Regions from separate parts of the Homo sapiens genome. Here region 1 is linked to region 2. The links come from fine-mapping of genetic effects on gene expression. A gene starts in region 2. The other region holds a variant in brackets. All regions are shown on one strand. Distances are between the middles of the regions.

Evidence for each region.
Region 1: its variant is fine-mapped to the expression of DLGAP4-AS1 in nucleus accumbens (GTEx, PIP 0.99). The same link has a PIP of 0.9 or more in skin.

Annotation. Positions count from the first base shown.
Region 1 is chr20:36,449,362-36,460,954 of GRCh38, reverse strand. All of the region lies in intron 7 of DLGAP4 (DLG associated protein 4), which reads right to left. Among named protein-coding and RNA genes, the nearest start is that of MYL9, 86 kb to the left of the region's middle. RefSeq lists a silencer at 1-28 and an enhancer at 5,819-6,619. The variant G/A (reference allele first, on the strand shown) is at 4,667.
Region 2 is chr20:36,566,683-36,578,275 of GRCh38, reverse strand. It overlaps DLGAP4-AS1 (DLGAP4 antisense RNA 1), which reads left to right and starts at 5,001. Exons shown (of 5, transcript NR_109939.1): 1 at 5,001-5,364; 2 at 6,733-6,835. TGIF2 (TGFB induced factor homeobox 2) reads right to left here and starts at 4,679. Exons shown (of 3, transcript NM_021809.7): 1 at 4,531-4,679. It overlaps TGIF2-RAB5IF (TGIF2-RAB5IF readthrough), which reads right to left and starts at 3,761. Exons shown (of 5, transcript NM_001199535.2): 1 at 3,641-3,761. RefSeq lists silencers at 4,323-4,492, 4,563-4,652, 4,683-5,002 and enhancers at 5,503-5,562, 6,181-6,733.

The DNA.
Region 1 (11,593 bases), 120 kb after region 2:
TCCTCCCTTTGCTTTGCTAACCCAGAGTCCTAGAGATTGGGTTCCAATCCCGGCTCCGCCTCTGGAGGCCTGTGTGATCTTGAACAACATCCGCATTCAACTTCCCTGAGCCTTCCATTCCTCCCCCGTAAAATAAAACAACAAGCACACCTACGATCTCATGGAGGGCAAAGTGACCAGCTCGAGCCGGGTTGGCAGTAGGTGGTGCCTTCACGCCTCCTCGCCTTCCCAGTTCCTGGCTTCTACCCCGCGAGTCCCCTCTCCTCACTGAATCCAGGTCCTGTCGCTGCCTTGTGGGCCTCATCTCTCCAGGCCGCACCTGTGGTAGGTCTGCCAGACGCAGACCCAACTCTTGTTCATGACCTGCCTTGCTGGGTGACCTAGGCAAGTCCTTTCCTTTCTCGCATCTGTTTTCCAAAAAATGGAGAAAAGAATTTTTGACATATCAAAATATTTTGAGCACTGGCGAAGATGATAGTGTTTCCAATACCACTGTCATGGTTTTTGCATTAAGGTGTAAAAATAATAAACGGAATTGAGGGTTAGCCAACCGTTTTGAATCCAGGCACTGTGCTAAGCACTTTGAAGGTCATCCTATCTCAGTCACTTATGCTACGCCTGTACTATTCACTTTAAGTTGGTTATTTTTATTTTTTGTAGCGACAAGGTCTCTGTTGCTCAGGCTGGTCTTGAACTCCTGGGCTCAAGCGATCCTCCCACCTCGGCCTCCCAAAGTGTTGAGATTACAGGCGTGAGCCAAGGTTGATTTACTTAGGAAAAAAACAAGGTACATTTGTTATGGGCCCTGACAACCCAAGGCAGCACACACAGCATAAGATGAAATATCATTATTCCACTTCCACCCTCCCAAATTTAATAACACACTCCCTGTGTGACCTTGAACAAGTCCCTTTCCCTCTCTGGGACTCACCAGCCCTATCTGTTTCCTGGAGAGAAACTGGACCAAGGCAAGATTTTTCAAACTGTGGACCGTGATTGACACCCTGAAGAGAGATCACTGGGGGCACCAACTGAAAAGCAGATTCTGGGCCGAGTGTGGTGGCTCACGCCTGTAATCCCAGCACTTTGGGAGGCCAAGGCGGGAGGATCACCTGAGGTCAGGAGTTCAAGACCAGCCTGACCAATATGGAGAAATCCCGTCTCTACTAAAAATACAAAATTAGCCGGGCATGGAGGCACATGTCTGTAATCTCAGCTACTTGAGAGGCTGAGGCAGGTGAATCGCTTGAACCTGGGAAGCGGAGGTTGCGGTGAGCCAAGATTGCGCCATTGCACTCCAGCCTGGGCAACAAGAGCGAAACTCCGTTTCAAAAAAAATTAATTAATTAATTAAAAAAAGACCAGCCTGGGCAACATAGGGAGACCCTGCCTCCACAAAAATTAAAAAATTAGCTGGGTGTGGTGGCATGTGCCTGTGGCTCCTCAGCTACTCAGGAAGCTGAGATGGGAGGATTGCTTGGGCCCAGGAGGTCAAAGCTGTAGTGAGCTGTGATCCTGCCACGGCACTCCAATTTGGGTGACAGAGTGAGACACTGTCTCCAAAATAAAAAAATAACAAAAAAGAAAAGCAGATTCCTGGGACAGAACTCAGGCAGTGTCAAACAGTGTTTGTATTTTACCAAATTTGAGACCCTTGGGCTAGGAGATTTTAACAGTCCCTTCTGATGGTGATGCTTTAGGGTCCCAGAAGATATTTATGGAACATCTACTGTACTCCAGTACTGGGTCCTTCCCCTAAGAGCTCCCCAGTCTGGCTGGAATCCCTACAAGGCAGAGTTGGCTGGACCACAGCCTGAGATGGGGCACAGACAGGACTCACATGCTCCCCCTCCCTAATCCCCAGCCTGGACCCCAAGGCTCCCCATCCGGGGGGTGAAGATGCTCCTCTCCCAACTTCCCAGATAGTCACTGTCCTGTCTCAGGTGCCAGAACTGGCAGTTAGAGGAGTGAGGGCTGTCCCCACGCGACCTGGCTGTGTAACCATTCCTTCTCATCACCCCTTAGCTGTTCTCCTTCACTCTCACCCACATCCAATCCACCAAAGAATCCTGTTGACTCCACTTTCAGAGCCCTTCCAGGATCCAGTGAGTTGTCACCACCTCCCTCACTGCCACCCTGCCTAAGCCACCATCATCACCCTGGTATTCCCATATCACCCACTTCTCGCCCCTCAAACGTGGCTCCATGCAGCCCCCTGAGTAGTCTTTTTTTCTTTTTCTTTTCTTTTTTTTATTTTGAGACGGAGTCTCATTCTGTTGCCAGGCTGGAGTGCAGTGGCGCAATCTCGGCTCACTGCAACCTCTGCCTCCCAGGCTCAAGCGATTCTCATGCCTCAGCCTCCCGAGTAGCTGGGATTACAGATCTGTGCCATCACACCTGGCTTTGTATTTTTAGTAGAGAGGGGTTTTGCCAGGCACGGTGGTTCATGCCTGTAATCCCAGCACTTTGGGAGGCTGAGGCGGGTGGATCACCTGAGGTCAGGAGTTCAAGACCAGCCTGACCAACATGGTGAAACCCCTCGCCATGGCACTCCAAGCCTGGGCAACAGAAGCAAGACTTCATCTCAAAAAAAAAAAAAAAAAAAAAAAAGATATGGGGTTTCACCACGTTGGCCAGGCTGGTCTCAAACTCCCGACCTCAGGTGATCTGCCTGCCTCGGCCTACCAAAGTGCTGGGATTACAGGCGTGAGCCACCGCACCCGGTCTGAGTGTTTCTTTTAAGACACACACCAGGTCATGTCACTCTTGTGCTCCAGTGCCCCAGTGGTTCCCCCTTGTACTCAGAGCCAAAAGACAAAGTTGTTTCCACAGTCGGTGGCCAGACCCAACCCTCCCCTCCCTGTCCTCGAACCTCACCTCTTACCATGGCTCTCTCCTCAGTGCTCTGCCCCCCACCAGCCTGTCAGGCACCTCCTGCCTCAGGGCCTTTGTACCACTCACCCCCCGCCTGGAGCGCTTCCCAGCACTGCTTATTCCCACACTTCCTTCAAGTCTTCACTCAATCCGGGTGTGGTGGCTCATGCCTGTAATCCCAGCACTTTGGGAGGTGGGGTGGATAGCTTGAGGTCAGGAGTTCGAGACCAGCCTGGCCAACATGGTGAAATCCCCTTTACTAAAAATACAAAAATTAGCTGGGTGTGCCTGTAATCTCAGCACTTTGGGAGGCCAAGGTGTGCGGATCATGAGGTCAGGAGATCAGGACCATCCTGGCTACCACGGTGAAACCCCATCTCTACTAAAAATACAGAAAATTGGCCGGGCGTGGTGGCTCATGCCTGTAATCCCAGCATTTTGGGAGGCCAAGGCAGGCGGATTACCTGAGGTCAGGAGTTCAAGACCAGCCTGGCCAACATAGTGAAACCCCGTCTCTACTAAAAATACAAAAATTAGCCAGGTGTGGTGGCAGGTGCCTATAATCCCAGCTACTCAGGAGGCTGAAGCAGGAGAATCGCTTGAACCAGAACCAGGGAGGCGGACATTGCAGCCATTGCACTCCAGCCTGGGGGACAAGAGTGAGACTTTGTCTCAAAAAAAAAAAAAAAAAAAAATTAGCCGGGCGTGGTGGCGAGCGCCTGTAGTCCCAGCTACTCAGGAGGCTGAGGCAGGAGAATGACATGAACCCGGGAAGCGGAGGTTGCAGTGAGCCAAGATCTCGCTACTGCACGCCAGCCTGGGTAACAGAGTGAGACTCCGTCTTAAAAAAAAAAAAGTCTTCACTCAAAATCTCCCTCTCAATGAGCTGTACCCTAGCCACCCTGTTTATACCTCGGCACCCCTCCCTGCACTCTGCCACCACTCCCAGGACCCCTTATGCTGTGCCAACTACCAACAAACCACACACTTATTTATGTTTATTGTTTTGTCTGCCCTTCCCCTTCCCAGTAGAATACAATCTCCATGAAGGCAAGGATTTCCATTTTGCTCACTGATGGTACCTACAACACAGCCTGGCCCAGAGCACTTGATCAATAAACATCTATCAGTGAAAGATGCCTGATTGCAAGGCTCAGGTGCTTAACCACCATGCCGTAGGGCCTCCAAGGTTCTATTTAAACACCTTCATCTCTCTTCCTTTGGGGTGACTTCTCTACCCCCTGAGGGGATACAGAATGCCCCTGTCTTGTCTCAAGAGTCTCAATCCTGGGATTGGAGGCCTGCCCACCAGTCCTTCAGTCCTGGTCACTATTTCCCCCAGAAGGCTGAGTGGATCTGCTAAAAACAGGACATGGAAGAGTGAGGATCCATATACTCAGCACACAGTAGGCACTCAATTAATCAGGCATGTCGTAGTCCAAGGGTTGGTGGACCCCAGACAGGAAGCCTGCCTTCTGCCCAGTGTCCTCTGTGGAGAGGTGCCTGTTTCAGCAGTAGGGAATTGTGGTTCCTCATTATTCATTCTGGGAAGGCCTCCTGGGTCCTCCCATTATTCTCTGACCCTATGGCCCCTGTCCTGACCTCACTGTCACTTACCTAGACCACTGCACCAACCTGTGAGTGGCCTCTCAGCCTCTAATCCATCCTGCCCATGTTGCTAGAGGACTTCCCCTGCAACTCCTGTAACATACCTTCATTACCCATGCTTGTACTGCTTTACCAGGACTGGGTGGCTCCCACGCACAGGGGGCAATGGAGAACCCAGGGCTTC[G/A]AAGTCAGGCACACCCAGGTAGGAAACTGCTCCCTGACCTACTAGCTGGCTGACTTTGACCTTGATAGATAATCATCTTCCCTAGGCTGATGTTTCTTTGTGAAATATCTGTAAATGTGTGTGCATGTCTGTGTGTGCGCACGTGCATGTTGGGATAAGTGGGTTAGATCAGGAATTGCAGATGTATGTAACTCTTCTGGCTACGGTAGACATCGCGAATCGATGGTGGCACCTTTCTTTGCTTAACCAAATCTCAGAACTGAGCTCCAGGGATCAGAGATGACACATGGTTGAAGTCCATTTGCAATCTCCGGACATGATGGTCTTTGAGTTTCCTCTTAGCCCTGACACTGTGGAGACTAGAGGCGTTGGGCTGACAAGAGCCTGCGGTGGAGTGAGGGGACAGGTGGGCCCAGGGTAGGGTTGGGGGACAGGGTTGACTGGAGGGTTGACTGTGTACTGCAATTTTATCAACCTCCCTTCCTGTATACAGAGTGTGTGGTGCCGGGGGGAGGTTAGGGGTAGGAGGGCAGTCAGAGAAGAAGCTGGGGGATGGAAGATGGGACAAAGAGGGGCAGGCATAGCAGCTGATGACTGGATTGTCACAGATGGGAGGTACCTGTGGGTCCCCAAACCAAGGCCTCACAACACAGATAGAGACTTTGAGGCCCAGGGAAGGGCAGGTGCCCACTCAGAGTGACACAGAACTCAGGGTCCCTGAGCAAGGAGCAAGGGTGGTTCCCAGGCCTGGAGCCCATCCCAGGTCAGCCTAGAGCCACAAGCACTGTCAGGGAGTGAGCCCAAGTGTGTGTGCCTGTGTGCTTGCACACACTCAGGTGCAGAGAATGCAGCTGGCAGGAGTGGGGGTACACCCTGCAGCCCACCACCTTGCCTGCCCAGGCCACTGGCTGTCATCACAGCCTCCCTGTGATTCAGAGGGAGTGGGAGAGACACAGAAAGGGAGGACGGGGAGGAGGGCCAGAAACTGAGAGGGAAGGAAGGCAGAGAGGGTGGGAGGGAGAAGCAGAGAACTGAGGGAGACAGACAGAAGGCAAAGATGGTGGGGGGAGAAAGAGGGAGAGGAAGGGAGGGGAAGCTGGAAGAAAGAGAGGGAGATGGCAGAGTAAGAGGAGGGAGGGAGGAGGAGGGAGGCTGTTCTCCTTTCTTCTTTTTCTCAGAGGCATAGAGAGAAGAGAGGCAGGAGGGGGCAGACTGGGGAGTGATGGCACCCCCAAGCCCCCTCCTAGATAGGTCCTTTGGCTGGGGAGGGGCACGCATCCATAGCGGCTGCTTCTCCCACCATCCCAGCTAGAGCTGACCCCGCCTGCCAGTCACCTGCCAGAGCTATTTCTGGAATGTGGAATCTGGGTCAGACAGGGGGAGGGAGAACAGGGACAGCAGTAGTGGCACTGGCAGTGGAGAATTGGCCAGGTCCACGTGGGTGGGCGGGCAGGCAGGCAGCTCCTCACCCTGCCCACGCCCTGCTTGAGAGGGGCTCTCACTGCCTCAATAACTGCCGCTCCCCTACATCAACCCACCGGCCTGCACAGGACCTGAGTGCACAGATGCCTCTGTGAGAAGGACAGAGCTTTCATGCCCTTCAGCAACGTGGGGGCTCAGAACAGCCCTGGGGGTGGAGAAAGGACCCGATTGCTCACTCCTTGGAGACAGATGCTGAGGAGTAAGGGGGCAGCCTTCTGAGCAGGGGTGACCCAGTAGGGAGACAGTGGCTGGATGTACAGTGGTGAGGATGTGCCTGTGTGTGCTGGTGTTTGTCTGTGGAGGGAGTGATTTTGGGCAGGCTCGCCATATATGGTTGTACAAGTTTTATACTGATCAAGGATGCTACATATCGGGGGGAGCCATTCACCACATAGACATAATTTAATTATATAATTATTATGACAAATTTCTGGCAAATGGAAGTAAAGGACCTTATTCTAACAAAAAGTGTGACATGACAATTTTTCAACAGATGGCTGTTAAGTGTCTTAAGGAGTGCCCTTTCTTTCTATCTTTTTTTTTTTTTTGAGACAGAGTCTCGCTCTGTCGCCCAGGCTGGAGTGTAATAGTGCGATCTTGGCTCACTGCAACCTCTGCCTCCCAGGTTCAAGTGACTCTCCTGCCTCAGCCTCCCGAGTAGCTAGGATTACAGGCGCCCAGCTAATTTTTGTATTTTTAGTAGAGACGGGGTTTTGCCATGTTGGCCATTCTGGTCTCAAACTCCTGACCTCAGGTGATCCACCCACCTCGGCCTCCCAAAATGCTGGGATTACAGGCGTGAGCCACTGTGCCCGGACTCTTTTTTCTTTTTCTTTTCTTTCTTTCTTTCTTTTTTTTTTTTTTTTTTTTTTGGAGACAGAGTCTCACTCTTTTCGCCCAGTCTGGAGTGCAATGGCACGATCCCGGCTCACTGCAACCTCCGCCTCCTGGGTTCAAGCGATTCTTCTGCCTCAGCCTCCAGAGTAGCTGGGATTATAGGTGCCCGCTACCATGCCCAGCTAATTTTTGTATTTTTAGCAGAGACAGGGTTTCACCATGTTGGCCAGGCTGGTCTCGAACTCCTGACCTCAGGTGATCCACCCACCTCAGCTTCCCAAAGTGTTGGGATTACAGGTGTGACCCACCGTGCCCAGCCTCTTTTTTCTTTTTTTTAAAGACAGAGTCTCATTCTGTTACCCAGGCTGGAGTACAGTGGCATGATCATGGCTCACTGCAGCACGACCTCCCAGGCTTAAGCAAATCCCACCTCAGCCTCCCAAGTAGCTGTGACCACCATGCACAGCTAATTTTTTTTATTTTGTAGAGACAGGTTCTCACTATGTTGCCCAGGCTGATCTTGAACTCCTGGGCTCAAGTGATCCTCCCACCTTGGTCTCCCAAAGCATTGGGATTATAGGTATGAGCCACTGCACCCAGCCTCTGTTTCTTTTTAGACAGGGTTTTGCTCTGTCACACAGGCTGAAGTGCAGTGGCTAACTAAAAAAAAATTTTTTGTAGAGATGGAGTCTCACTATGTTGCTGAGGCTGGTCTTGAACTTCTGGCCTCAAGAGATCCTCCCTACGGTGCTGGGATTATAGCACCGTGCTCAGCACTGTACCCGGCCTGAGCTTGCTCCTTTTGGCTGCATTTGTTAAGGACTTACAAGACAAAGGGGCCAGGCGTGGTGACTCACGCCTGTAATCCCAGCACTTTGGGAGGCCAGGGCAGGCATATCACTTGAGGTCAGGAGTTTGAGACCAGCCTGGCCAACATGGTGAAACCCCGTCTCTACTAAAAATACAAAAATTAGCCAGGCATGGTGGCGCATGCCTGCAGTCCCAGATACTTGGGAGGCTGAGGCAGGAGAATGGCTTGAACCTGGGAGGCAGAGGTTGCAGTGAGCCGAGATCATGCCATTGCACTCCAGCCTGAGTGATAGAGGGAGACTCTGTCTCAAAAAAAAAAAAAAAAAAAAAAAAGACTTACACAAGAAAAAGGCCAAGCGCAGTGGCTCACGCCTGTAATCCCAACACTTTGGGAGGCCGAGGCGGGCAGATCACTTGAGGTCAGACGTTCAAGACCAGCGTAGCGAACATGATGAAACCCCACCTTTACTAAAAATTTGAAAGTTAGCTGGGTGTGGTGGCATATGCCTGTAATCCCATCTACCTGGGAGGCTAAGGCAGGAGAATGGCTTGAACTCAGGAAGTGGAGATTGCAGTGAGTTGAGATCCTGCACTTCAGCCTGGACAACAGAGCAAGACTCTGTCTAAAAAAAAAAAAAAAAAGATTTACAAGAAAAGGAGGAACTCAAAAGAAATAGCTAGGCCAAGTGCCGTGGCTCACACCTGTAATCCCAGTACTTTAGAAGGCCAAGGTGGGAGGATCACTTGAGCCCAGGAGTTCAAAACCAGCCTGGTAGAACATAAGGAGACCCCATCTCTACAAGAAATTTAAAAATTAGCCAGGCATGGTACTGCATGACTCTGGTCTCAGCTACTCGGGAGGCTGAGGCAGGAGGATCGCTTGAGCCTGGGAGGTTGAGGCTATGGTGAGCTATGACCATGCCACTGCACCCATGCCTGGGTGACACATGGAGATCCTGTCTAAAAAAGTAAAAAATAGCCGATCTTCAAGGAGCGTTTAGAGGAAAGGGAAGGAGACCAGAACTTGTTTAGTTGGAAAATAAATTTGTCAACTCCAGCCCCTCCAGAGAGTAAACCATTCTCAAATTAAGATACAGCCTCGTTAGGCATGGTGGCTCATGCCTGTAATTCCAGCACTTTGGGAGGCCAAGGCAGGCAGATCACCTGAGGTCAGGAGTTTGAGACCAACCTGACCTACAGGGAGAAACCCTGTCTCTACTAAAAATACAAAACTAGCTGGGCATGGTGGTGCATACCTGTAATCCCAGCTACTTGGGAGGCTGAGGCAGGAGAATCACTTGAATCCAGGAGGCGGAGGTTGAGATGAACTGAGATCACGCCATTGCACTCCAGCCTGGGCAACAAGAGCGAAACTCAAAAAAAAAAAAAAAAATACAGCCTCAGGGCAAAGATGAAACCAAGGTCATGGCCAGTTAAGATGCCGTATGTGGACAGGATCAAATCAAAGTGTGGTTATAATATCTCTTATTAACACTCTAAAAATAGTAGAGCCAGGCGTGGTGGCTCACACCTGTAATCCCAGCACTTTGTGAGGCCGAGGCGGGTGGATCACTTGAGGTCAGGAGTTCGACACTAGCCTGGCCAACATGGTGAAACCTTGTCTCTACTAAAAATACAAAAATTAGCCAGGCATGGTGGCACACGCCTGTATTCCCAGCTACTTGGGAGGCTGAGGCATGAGAATCGCTTGAACCTGGGAGGTAGATGTTGCAGTGAGCTGAGATCGCGCCACTGCACTCCAGCCTGGGCGACAGAGAGCGAGACTCTGTCTCAATCAATCAATCAATCAAGATACCAGGTAGCAGATGCTACTATCTGGTCAAAAGGGCCTACAGAAAGCTTAAGGGCATGGTCCCACAGAAGCCCAAAGTAGGCATCAAGTCAAGAGAGAGGCATGACTCAAAAACAATTATGGGTATGGCTTTTGGCACTCGAAGTTACAGGGAATCAAATACATAGAAAACTCATCAAATGTTTGAGGTAGGTGCATGGGTAAAATTGACCAGCTTAGGCTAAAGGGAGTAAGACCGTTCAAGATGCAAAAGACATCTAGCTCCCTAACTTTCTTTAGGAAGGAAGCAAGCTAAGAAAGGTGTTCCGTTCCCCAAGGCTATATTCTCCAAGTTCTCTTTAAAAGTGGCCAAAAATGCTGATGGAGAAGGAAGGGCTTTCAGAGAGCAGAACCAAGAGCTGTGGAGAACAGTAGACTAGAAGATCAACCCCAGGGAGAACTTGTACCTAATCAACAAATCTCAACGCATTTGCCCAACAGTTGCTCAGAAGGACTTCAGAATTGCCATGGATCAATAAGTCTCTGCATCTCTACTTTCCCCTTTTCTGAACAGGAGTATTAACTGCAGTTCTCCTGTCCCTGTTTCACCAGTGTATGCTGTGTGGTTGGGGAGGGTTAGACTGTAGGGTAGATAAGTAGTTTCTTTAAAAAATTAAAAGTCAATTGTTCGACAGAAGCCACATCCAGACCTGACATAGATCATAAGAGTCTGATCCAATCTCATGATTGGATGAGACTTTTGGGGGTCTTGGGAATAAAAGTTTTCTACCTGGGAAGGGCATGAGTAAATACAGCCAAGACAGTGGATCATGGAACATAGAATTGTTGACCCTGATTCTTTTTTTTTTGAGACGGAGTCTCACTTTTGTTGCCCAGGCTGGAGTGCAATAGTGTGATGTTGGCTCACTGCAACCTCCACCTCCCGGGCTTAAGCGATTCTCCTGCCTCAGCCTCCTGAGTAGCTGGAATTACAGGTGGGCACCACCACGCCTGGCTAATTTTTGTATTTTTAGTAGAGACAGGGTTTCGCCATGTTGGCCAGGCTGGTCTCAAACTCCTGGCCTCAAGTGATCCACCTGCCTCGGCCTCCCAAAGTGCTGGGATTACAGGCATGAGCCACTGCGCCCACCCAGACCCTGATTCTTTACCTCTCCCTGTGGCCACACCCTTTGCCATATGAATATAGTTTCCTACACAAAGGTGAGAAGATACTTCTCCATCCCTTGTCTATGAGCTCAGTCATATGACTTGTGTTGCCAATAGGATGTTAGCAGGTATGACATGAGCAGAGGCCTTGAAATGTGCTTGTTTGGTTAGTTAGGCTTGCTCTTCTGTCTTCTGCCATCACCATAAGGAGAACATGCCCTGGCTAGACCACTGATCCCAGGAGGACTCTTTGGTCCCAGGAGGAGGATGAAAGACATGTGGAGCAGAACTGTCCCAACTGACAAACTTGGGAGCAAGAAATAAATGTGAATTGTTGTATTACACTGATTTTGTGGTTGTTTGTTATGCAGCATAATTGTAGCAAGAGCTGACCAATACAGGGACCCAGGCAGTATTGGGACATGTAGCCCATCCCCTATCTTTAGTCCATTCATGAGTGACTGGGGTTGGAAAAACTGGTGAGGGATGGTTTATTTGAAGAGAATTGCTAGGGGTGCTGTCTATCCCTCCAGGCCCACTTCATGCTTAGAGAACTTCGCATGGGTGTGAGGATGTGGGGGATGTTATCCTTCACCCACGGCCCCTTTGGAACTGTAGCAGAGTGCCTGGGACAGCCTGGGAGAGCTCTTCTGGATGTGGAGGCCACAGAACCTGGGCCTCAGCTCTTGTTTGGAGACCTTGAAGGTGGAGAGGCTGGCAGGGCTACCGGTAACAGCAGGACTAGAAGGAAGGCTGTAGCGGGCCAGTCTGTATTTTCGGAGGCTGTAGCAGACCAGTCTATATTTTCAGAGTCCCAGAAGGCAAAGGCCCTTGTTTTC
Region 2 (11,593 bases):
TGCCTGGCTGACTTTCTGTATTTTTTGGTAGACACAGGGTTTCACCATATTGGCCAGGCTGGTCTTAACTGCTGGCCTCAAGAGATCTAGCAGCCTCAGCCTCCCAAAGTGCTGGGATTGCAAGCGTGAGCCACCATGCCTGGCCTGTACTGAGCATTTTACATGTTATCTCATTTAATCATTACAATTCCCCAATAAGGGAGAAGCTATTATTATCATCATTTTATAGATGAGGTAACAGAGATCAAGAAAGCTGCCCAAGGCCTGCGCAGTGGCTCACACACACACACACAAAATACAAAAATAAGCCAGGTGTCATGCTGTGCATTTGTAAGCCCACCTACTTGTGGGACTGAGGCAGAATTGCTTGAGCCCAGGAGGTCAAGGCTGTAGTGAACTGTGTTTGTGCCACTGCACTTCAGCCTGGGTGACAACAAAATAAAAAAGGTCTCAAAAAACAAAGGCCGGGCACAGTGGCTCATGCCTGTAATCCTAGCACTTTGGGAGGCCGAGGCAGGCAGATCACGAGGTCAAGAGATTGAGACCATCCTGGCCAACAGGGTGAAACCCTGTTTCTACTAAAAATACAAAAATTAGCTGGGCATGGTGGCGCGTGCCTGTAGTCCCAGCTACTCGGGAGGCTGAGGCAGAATTGCTTGAACCTGGGAGGTGGACGTTGCAGTGAGCCGAAATCGTGCCACCGCACTCCAGCCTAGTGACACAGCGAGACTCCATCTCAAAAAAAAAAAAACAAAAACAAACAAAGGCCGGACACGGTGGCTCACGCTCGTAATCCCAGCACTTTGGGAGGCCGAGGTGGGTGGCTCACCTGAGGTCAGGAGTTCGAGACCAGCCTGGCCAACATGGCAAAACCCCGTCTCTACTAAAAATACCAAAAAAAAAAAAAAATTAGCTAGGTGTGGTGGCACACACCTGTAATCCCAGCTACTTGGGAGGCTGAGGCAGGAGAACTGCTTGAACCTAGAAGGCAGAGGTTGCAGTGAGCTGAGATCATGGCATTGCACTCCAGCCTGGGTGACAGAGTGATTCCCTGTCTCAACAAAAGAAAAAAATAAAAAAATAAAATAAAATAAAAATTAGCCCAGTGTGATGGTGTGCCAGTAGTCCCAGCTATTCTGAGAGGCTGAGGTGAGAGGATCCCTTGAACCCAGGAGTTCAAGGCTGTAGTGAGCTATGATCGCACCAGTGCATGTCAACCTGGACGACATAATTAAAAACCTGTTTTCAAAAATAAAATAATAAAAAAAAAATGCCACGTGCTGTGGCTCACACCTATACTCCTGGCACTTTGGGAGGCCAAGGCAGGTGGATCGCTTGAGCTCAGTAGTTCAAGACCAGCCTGGGCAACACGGTGAAACCCCATCTCTACAAAAAATACAAAAATTAGTTGAGCACGGTAATGCATGTCTGTGGTCCCAGCTACTCTGGGGGCTGAGGTGGAAGAATCGCTTGAGCCCGGAGGCAGAGGTTGCAATGAGATGAGATCACACTACTGCCCTCCCATCTGAGAGGCAGAGCAAGACCCTGTCCCCCTATCCCCCCGCAAAAAAGTCCTAAAATTGACTATAGTGATGGTTGCAAACATACCAAACCTGCTGATGAGTATACTTTAATGGGTGAATTGCATGGTATGTGAGTTATATCTCAATAAAGCTGTAAAGGAAAAAAATCCCACCCCCAGGTTAGGATAGTGAAGTCGGATTTGGACCAGGCCTCTCCCCACCCCCTCTTGTGAGCTGTATACTGTCTTGCCTCCTAGGTCTCCCAAGGGCCAGTGAGAACTCTGGAAACTACAGATCACCATGATCCTGCAGCAGTCCAAGTAATATTTAAGGAGCACCTACTGTGTACCTTGCAGTGAGAGAGGTGAGTCATCTCTCTACTGGTTGCTTCTTGGACATTCTCCTTTGTCAGGCCCCTTTAGCCTGGTCCTAGACTCAACCACTCAAAATCCAGGTGAATGAGCAAGGCCCACCCTCCACTTGGCACTGTAACTTGGACAAGGATCCTCCCCTTTCTGGGCTTGAGTCCCCTCTTCACCTGTCAAATGAAGGAAGGATTTTCCCTAGATAACCCAACTCAGCTGCTCAGTCCCTGGACAAAGTTCTGTTTCACACGTGCAACAAAGATTTTCTTTCTTTCTTTCTTTCTTTTTTTTTTTTTGAGATGGAGTCTCGCTCTGTAGCCTAGGCTGGAGTGCAGTGGCGCAATCTTGGCTCACTGCAATCTCCATCTCCCAGGTTCAAGCAATTCTCCTGCCTCAGCCTCCCGAACAGCTGGGATTACAGGTGTGTGCCACCACATCTAGCTATTTTTTTTTTTTTAGTAGAGACAGGGTTTTGCCATGTTGGCCAGGCTAGTCTTGAACTCCTGACCTCAGGTGATCTGCCCGCCTCGGCCTCCCAAAGATCTGGGATTACAGGTGTGAGCCACCCCGCCCAGCCAGATTTTCATTTTAAAAGCAAAAGTTCTAGGCCAGGCTGATGCCAGGATCTCAAGGCTCCTCCCTTCTCAGCCTTTTAACAGCTCCCCAGCAGGCCGGCCAACAGACTCTGGCATCTCCCAGGTTTTGTTTCCTCTTCTTGGACCCGAGCCCAGATCTCTGGGCTGGCTAGGCCAGGCTTTCGAGGGAAGGGTCTACCCTTTCAGTCAGGCCACCTGGAGGTGAGACAGGCACTGGTTAGACGTGCCACTCCTCAGAGAGCACCACTGCAGGCTGCTTTCTGAGGTCAGACAGCCATTTCTAGGTGGCCAGGGCAGCTGGGATCTGGGCTCAGTGATGCAGCCCTGGCCGGCTGTGAGAAGTACTCAAGGTTATCTGTACAAATTCCACCCTGGCTGCCAGCCAAGTCTGTCTGCAGGGTTCCCCGGGTGGGCCCTGGGGAATGACCCCTCAGTCTACACAAACTTCTCCACCTCGGTGTTCCGCCACACAGGGCCATCTGTAGTCTGGGAGGCTTCCCACATATGCACCCCACACCGCACCCAGACACACTCACGCCAGGCAATTAACCAACAGCGCTAGGATAACTGGCCCGGACCCATCGCTCAAGCCTTACAAACCCTAGGGTTTTCACCGACGCATACAGCACGCACACGCACAGCTTACAGACCCCAGGCCTAGCACGAACAACTGTGACCCACACAACTAGCCCAACTTCTGTACCCGCCCACCCACGAACTCCAACCGACCCGGCCACCCCCGATCTCTCCGACAGGGAAAACTCCAGGCGTCATCACACTAACAATCAGTTCTACCCTCAGTGACCTGTGGCAGCAACCCCTCGACACAACATCCCGTACACCCTCCTACAGACTCCCACGACGCCACCTGCAGCCACTCCCGCACGAACTTTCTGACAACTCCCCTAGCTGGTCCCGACACTCCCCCGGGCCGCGCACTCACGCCCGCATTCCCAGCAGTTCAGACAAAGCGCGCAACCTCCCCCGCGGCCCAGACCGAGTCGGAGCACATGGCTCCTGGGTCGGCGAGGAATCGTCCGGCGCTCGGGGCGCTTGCACCCCACAGTCCCCACACCCCGGGCCGACTCCGCGCACCAGCTCCCGCGCGGGCCCGCCATCCCGGTGGGACGGGGGCTCTGGAAGAAAGAAAACTCACGTGTCTGTCCCGGGGCAGGAAAAAGTTTGGTTCCCACCCCTACTCCGGCAGTTCGGGGCTGGCCGACTCTTCGGGGCGCGGGGACGGCGGAGCGTGCGCGCTCGGCTTTGTGCTCCGAACTGGGCCCGGAGGGGGAGGGGAGGGGAAGGGAGGGGAGGGGGCTGGGCTCCCACCTCCGCGCCGCCCCCCCCCCCCCAGCCCTGCGCCCAGACTCCATGTTGGCCGCCCCCTGCCCCGGAGACTACGCGCTTCTCCCGCGGGAGGCTTGGATCACCTTCGGCCTGCCCGAGGGTCCCGGCGCGAACAAACTTTCTCCGGGGCGCCGGCCCCACGCGCCCCGCTTCCTTGGCCAGCCTGGGAGTGACAGATGCCTCGGAGACAGACTTTCCTTTGTTCCAAAGGAAAGGGGAACTCGCGCGGGCTCCCCAGGGCCCCCCCGCTCCGGGCCCTTCCCGCGGCCCCCACCCCCAGCTGTCACTCTCGGCCGCCCCCTGTCCGGCTCGGCGGCGGGGGGGCCCTGCTGGCGGTTAGCAACGTGCACTTTTGAAACCAAACAAATCCGTCCCCCCGCGCGCTCACTCAGGTCCGGTGCAGGATCGGCCCTCTCCTGGGGTGGGATCCTATGAAGCTGGGCCCCCCACCAGGGCCCCAAGCGGGCTTCCTCCCGGGGGCTGGAACAGTCCCCCACCGGCCCCCGGAGCGCAGCGCCGTCGGGACTCACAAACACCCCCCGGGGGCCGTCGGGACTCACAAACACCCCCGAGCTCACACACCCCCTACCGCACGCGCCAGGACGACGCCCCCTCCCCGTCCGGCCGAGAAAAAGAAACTTTCCAAGTTGTCCGCGCGCCCCCACCCCCATCTGGCCCTCTGCTGCTCCCTGCACTGACTTTTCCCAGCGGCTTTCGGGTCCACGCGGCCTCCGGCTCGGCGCGGGGCGTCCCGGCGGGGAGCGGGGGGCGCCGGGGGCGCGCGCCGCGTACCTGCCCGGCCTGACACTCGGCCTGACAGCTCGCGGCTGGAAAGCACCTCGCGGCCTGACGTCAGATCCCCTCTCCTCCCCCCGCGCCCTCTGCGCCCTCCCCCACCCGCCCGGAGGGAGAAAACAAACTTTGTGCGGAGCGCGACGAGCTGCGCCCACCCCCCGCGGGGCGGGCCGTCGGCGCCGAGGGGCTTCGCCCCGCCCAGCGCGCCCGGAGGGGGCGGGGCCGCGGGCACCTTCTTCCTGCGCCCACCCCGCCCTCAGGAATGCTGCATGGCCTACCCATAGCGGCGGTGGGAGCCTCCGCCGGGGAGAGCCCGCTCGGGGGCAGGAAGTGGCCCGGCCCTCCTCGTGGAGGGCGTTTCCGGAGCGCCTACTGTGCTCCTTGCCGGGGTGGGGGTCGTTACCGAGTGGGAACTTCTGCAAATCCTGACTTTTGTCACTTCGCGCCCCGCACAAGATGTCCTGCCGGCGGTGCGATTGGTCCCGTTGCTTCGAGGGGAAACTGAGGCCACTTAGTCCGGGCACTTACCCGCAGCTAGTTAAGGACTAGGCTCTGATGGAGACGCTTGTTACGACCTCAATGGCCTGTAGAATCTGGGAGGCCGCCTCCGACCTAAGCCCAAAAAGCACATGATCGGGCTCACAGGGGGCGGCCAGAGGTGAAAACAGCCAACGCTTTACAACGACGCTGTGCGGGGCACTTCGTGTGTGTCATCCCGTCTCATCCTCGGGTGATAGGGTATGTGTTGTCCTATGTAAGTCTCTGGCTTACTCATGAGCCGCAGAGAGGTTCTTGATTTGCTTTTGTCACACAGTCAACCGGTATCATTCAGCCCAGGTCGGTCGATAGTGAAGCCTGATCCCTTACCCCTTGTGCCCGGCCTTAAACGATCAGTCCAGGAGCTCCCGGAGTTCCTGTCTGGTTTCTTTTTCCTCTTCTGCCAGTTACACCCTACTCCAGAAGGTTTTCCTTGGCCTCCCCCACCCCAGTCAGTACATTCTTCCCTGCTCTCTGCTGTGGGTACCACATACTGTGATATTTCTGTTAACCAGCCTCTTAGGGCATCCCCCCACGCCCCCCAGCCCTGTACCCGGACACGGCTAGGTCCAGATATCTAGGGCCCTTGAGCTTGGAAATCGCTTTGAAAACAGCTTTTGGACTTAATTACCCTTTAGCAATGGAGAACTCTAGGAACAAAACTCTTAATTTTTTCCAAACAAGCCTTAAGCCAATCAGAATGCTGATTAAAGATTGTTAAGGTTTCACCTGGACACCCCATAGAAGCCAGACTTCCTGCAAATGTTAAAAACCTCCTCACGGCAGCGGGTGAAATGTCAGTGGCACTGCCTGTTGCTCTCCATTTCACAGACAGGGAAAATAAGGCCCAGAGTGTGGGTCAGAAACAATTTTTTTGGCCGGGGAAGTGGTGCTCCCCCCACGGCCCTGTGAAAGAAAAAGCCACGTCTGGGTTGCCTTAGGTAAGAAATGTAAAACCAATGGGCCTTGGCCTCTAGGAAATGTATGGGACAGGGACCTTCAGAAGAGGGGAGCCCCAGGGGGAAATGGGTGCGACCAGGTGAGCCTGGAGAGGGGGCTCTGGTAGTGGCTGCTGAGCTTGAACTCCGCACTAGGCGTTTTTCTCCTGTATGCGTAAGAGCCACATTCTGCCCTTTCTGGGGAAGCCACTGGGGGCCTGGGCTAGAGGAAGAGACCGCACCGTAAATTGTGCCTGCAGCAGCCCCTTAGACGAGTGTTTCCCAAGTCTGGTGCTAGATGTGGTTGGGAAAATGGAAGCGGGGGAGTGCTGCCTCCTCCTCCACCTGAGAGCTGCATAACAAAGACCTGGAGCCCCTCCTCTCTCCTGGAGGACGGGGTAGTGGTGGAGGGAGGCTGGTAGCCGGTCAGATTTTGCACGTAAGCAAGCTTCACAGATAAAGCCTAAGTGCAATTAGAGTTTGAGAATTACCGTGTCAAGTTTCTGAACTAGTAAGTATCAGAATTTAAAATGTGTAGATTCTCTAAGACAGTAATTCCACTTCTAGGAATCTGTCTTTTGAAGTAGCTGTACAACAAAGATAAATGCTTATAGAAGATTGTTCTTTGCAGAACTGTTCATTCGGGAAAATTGCAAACAACTAAATACCCCTCACCAGGAGCTGGCCCATTATAGCAACTCTGAGACCTCTCTACCGCAGGCTCTTAAAATGGGGTAAGTTGGTGCGCGCTAATGTAGGGGCATGACCAAGGTATATTTATTGACAGCTTACAGTGTCCCAACAAGGAGGGACTTTGGACATAGTTGGTGAGAACTTTAGTGGGAAAACTTTTTCCAAGTGATAAGTTATTGTCATTTTTCTCTCCCCTACTTTCTTTTTTCTTTTTTTTTTTTTTTTTGAGACAGAGTCTCGTTCTGTCGCCCAGGCTGGAGTGCAGTGATGCGATCTCAGCTCACTGCAACCTCCACCTCCCAGCTGCAAGCGATTCTCCTGCCTCAGCCTCCTGAGTAGCTGGGACTAAAGGCGCCCACGCCCACCACCGTGCCCAGCTAATTTTTGTGTTTTTAGTAGAGACTTGAGTTTTGCCATGTTGGCCAGGCTGATCTTGAACTCCTGACCTCAAGTGATCCACCGCCTCAACCTCCCAAAGTGTTAAGATTACAGGTGTGAGCCTAGCTTTCTCCTCCTCTTTCTAAATTAAAAAGAAATATTGTGATAAGAAGCTCCTCCTACCTTTTTTCCCCATGTTTGAAGAAACTGGGTTGCTAAGGGAAGAAAAGACTTGCCTAATAGGAGTTTGGGGTCCTGACCCCTGGAAGGGAGCTGGGGATAGACTAGGAGAGGAAGGAGAGGTGGAAAGGCATCCAAGCCCAGACCAGCCTGGCTGCCCAGGTCATCTAAGTCAGTTCCCTGCCTCCGTACCAGAAAAACCCAAACCGGAGGCTCTTGGATGTGAGGCTCCAGGTTCATCCTGCCAGTTTCTAGTGAACTTGGTGATCACATAGGTTTAAATGAATAAATCCACTTTTGTTAAAAAAAAAAAAAAGTGAGCCGCTTCCTTTTTTTTTTTGAGACAGAGTTTCGCTCTTGTTGCCCAGGCTAGAGTGCAGTGGCGAGATCTCGGCTCACTACAACCTCCGCCTGCCAGGTTCAAGTGATTCTCCTGCCTCAGCCTCCTGAGTATCTGGGATTACAGGCATGCACCACCACGCCCGGCTAATTTTGTATTTTCAGTAGAGACGGGGTTTCGCCATGTTGGCCAGGCTGGTTTTGAACTCCTGACCTCAGGTGATCTACCTGCCTTGGCCTCCCAAAGTACTGAGATTACAGGTGTGAGCCACCACACCTGGCCACCGCTCCCTTTTTGATGGAAGTGGGGAAAGGCACCAGCATTCACTGAGAATCCATATGAGCCAAGTTGCATCTCAGGATAAAGGAGAAGATGGGCTTCTGTGGGGTAGAGGGAAGAGTCCAACAAAGGCCAGGGAGGGTGAAAGTGTTCAGGAAACAACTGGATTGGTTGAGATGGAAGGGCTGTGAAGGCCAGGATGAAGAATTTGGATTTGGCAGTGTGGGCAGTAGAGAGCTCCAGCTGGTTCCTGCGGAGAGCTGGGGAGAGACTGGAGGGAGGATAGTTGGTGACTCAGCTCTGGATAATTGAGGCCGAGCGGATGGAGACCCGCCTCTGAGATCTAGGGAGATTTGTGGCTGTTATGTGAGGTTCTGCATTTTCATCTAATGTTGATAAGTGGAATTCCACATCTTCCTCCTGAAAAGTCTTGCAGTGTCTTGTTGGTCAACCACAATTTGCCTAGCTTTCTCCTAGTTGTTGGGTATTTACTCACGTAACTAATTTCTGAGTGCCCACCTGTGTCTGGCTGTGTGCCTATGGCTGGAAAACCTACAGCCAAGCTTACTCCTGAAGGCTTTGGGCGACAGTGCCTTGCGGTGGGAAGGCTGTGGCCCTGGGACTTGGTTACTAGCCAGGTGATTTAGGAAAATCATCCACACCTTCTGAACCTCCCTTTTCTCATGTTGTGGAAACACAAGGCTTCGGTGAGAGTCAAAGAAAACAGGCACACCCCTTGTTTCATTGTGCCTTGCTTTTTTGCGCTTTGCAGGTACTGCGTTTTTTTCAAATTGAGGGCTTTTGGCAACCCTGTGTCGAGCAAAGTCTACCAGCATTATTTTTCCAAAAGGATGCTCAGTATGTGTCTCTGTGCCACATTTTGGTAATTCTTGAAATATTTCAAAGTTTGTTATTATTATATCTAGTATGGTGATCTGCGATCAATAATCTTTGATGTTACTATTGTAATTGTTTTGGGGCATCATGAATGATGCTTGTGTAAGACGGTAAACTTACTCCATCAATATTGTATGTGTTCTGACCGCTCCACCAACCAGCTGTTTGCAATTAGTAATCGTACAGTGGCCTCTAAGTGTTCAAGTGTAAGGAAGAGTTGCAAATCTCTCACTTCACATCAAGAGCTAGAAATAATTAAGCTCAGTGAGAAAGGCATGTTGAAAGCCAAGATAGGCCTTTTTTTTGTTTTTTTAGTTTTTAGTAGAGACGAGGTCACGCTATGTTGTCCAGGCTGGCCTCCAACTCCTGGGCTCAAGTGATCCTCCTGCCTCAGCCGTCCCAAGTGTTGGGATTAAAGTTGTGAGCCACCATGCCCCGCCTCTGGAGTAGCACTTTTAATTTCACTCAAGAACAATTGGCTGGGCGCGGTGGCTCACACCTGTAATCCCAGCTACTGGGGAGGCTGAGGCGGGAGAATTGCTTGAATCTGGGAGGCAGAGGTTGCAGTGAACTGAGATCACGCCACTGCACTCCAGCCTGGGCGACAGAGCAAGACTCTGTCTCAAAACAAACAAACAAAAACTATCTGGCTAGGTCTGGTGGCTCATGCCTGTAATCCCAACACTTCGGGAGGCCGAGGCAGGGGAAGGTCTCTTGAACCCAGGAGTTTGAGGCCAGCCTGAGCAACATAGCAAGACCCCCTCTCAACAAAAAATAATCAGCTGGGCATGGTGGCGAATGCCTGTAGTCCCAGCTACTTGGGAGGCTGAGGTGGAGGAAGGCTTGAGCCCAGGAGGTTGAGGCTGTGGTGAGGTATAATTGTGCCACTGTACTCCAGCCTGCGTGAAAGAGTGAGACCCTGTCTCAAAAATTGGCCAGGCGCAGTGGCTCATGCCTGTAACCTGAGCACTTTGGGAGGCCAAGGCAGGTGGGATCACTTGAGGTCAGGAGTTCGAGACCACCCTGGCCAACATGGTGAAAGCCCATCTGTACTAAAAAGAAAAAAAAAATACAAAAATAAATAAAGAAAAAGGTGCTATTTCAGTGAACACAGTAATAAGAAAGGGAACAGCCTTATTGCTGATATGGAGAAAATTTGAGTGGTCTAGATAGATGATCAGACCAGCGACAACGTTCCCTTAAACCAAAGCCTAATCCAGAGCATAAGCCCTAACTGTCTTCAATTCTCTGAAGGCTGAGAGAGCTGAGGAAGCTGCTGAAGAAAAGTTGGAAGCTATCAGGCTTCAGTAGGCTTTTTTTTTTCTTTTTTTTTTTTTTTTTGAGACGGAGTCTTGCTCTGTCGCCCAGGCTGGAGTATAGAGGCATGATCTTGACTCACCACAACCTCTGCCTCCCGGTTTAGGCGATTCTCCTGCCTCAGCCTCCCGAGTAGCTGGGATTATAGGCGCAGGCTACCACGCCCAGCTAATTTTTCGTATTTTTAGTAGAGATGGGGTTTCACCATGTTAGCCAGGCTGGTCTCGAACTCCTGACCTCAAGTGATCTGCCCACCTCGGCCTCCCGAAGTGTTGGGATTACAGGCGTGAGCCACTGCACCCGGCCAATTTCTGTATTTTTAGTAGAGATGGCGTTCCACCATGTTGCCCAGCCTGGTTTCAAATTCCTGACCTCAGGTGATCCGCCTGCCTTGGCCTCCCAAAATGTTGGGATTACAGGTGTGAGCCACTGTGCCTGGCCTGGAATTTCTTTGATGAGAGCTATGCCTTGACAGTCTCATTTTTCCATTGTACTAGAAGGTCTGGGGCCCTGGGAGCTAGTGCGGCATGAAGGCCTGAGTGGGCTCTGTGCCTTGCTGACAGTGTTCCCAAGCTGAGTGGAGGAAGACTAAGGGTCTGGATATCCTCAACACTGAGTACATGAATTTCTGTGTAACCCTTCTGTTGTTGCTGTCTTCTCCTCTCCTGTGCCTGGTGTTCATCTGTCCAGGACCTTCTGTATTCTTTGGATAATAAATTTCTGATCTCTTGTCGGGTCTAGGTTGCAGCCTTCATAGGATCTAGGAGTCCACTGCTTTTTTTTCTTTTTTCTTTTTCTGAGACAGAGTCTCGCTGTGGTGCAATCTCTGCTCACTGCAACATCCGCCTCTCAGGTTCCCGTGATTCTCATGTCTCAGCCTCCCAAGTAGCTGAGATTACAGGCGCCCGCCACCACACCTAGCTAATTTTTGCATTTTTAGTAGAGACATGGTTTCGCTGTGTTGCCCAAGCTGGTCTTGAACTCCTGAGCTCAAGTGATCCACCTGCCTCGGCCTCCCAAAGTGTTGGGATTAAAGAATAGAGATAAGGGAGGCACAGAGGGGCTAAGTAACACCTGAGGTTATAAAACTGGTCATTGGAGGAGGTAGGATTTTATTCCTGAAAGGTTAATGGTAATATTATCGTCTCCATTTCTGACTCTAGTAATTTCAAGTCTTTTTTCTTTTTTTCTTGGTCAGTCTAGCTGAGGGTTTGTCAGTTGCTTTGACTTTTTTCAAAGAACCAACTTTTGGTTTTATCAATTTTCTCTATTGTTTTTCTGTTCTCTATTTCATTCATTTCTGCCCCAGCATTTATTGTTTCTTTCCTTTTGCTTACTCCTGCTTTTGCTCTTCTTTTCTAATTTTTCTGGTATCTTAAAGTGGAAGGTTAGATTATTGATTTACAAT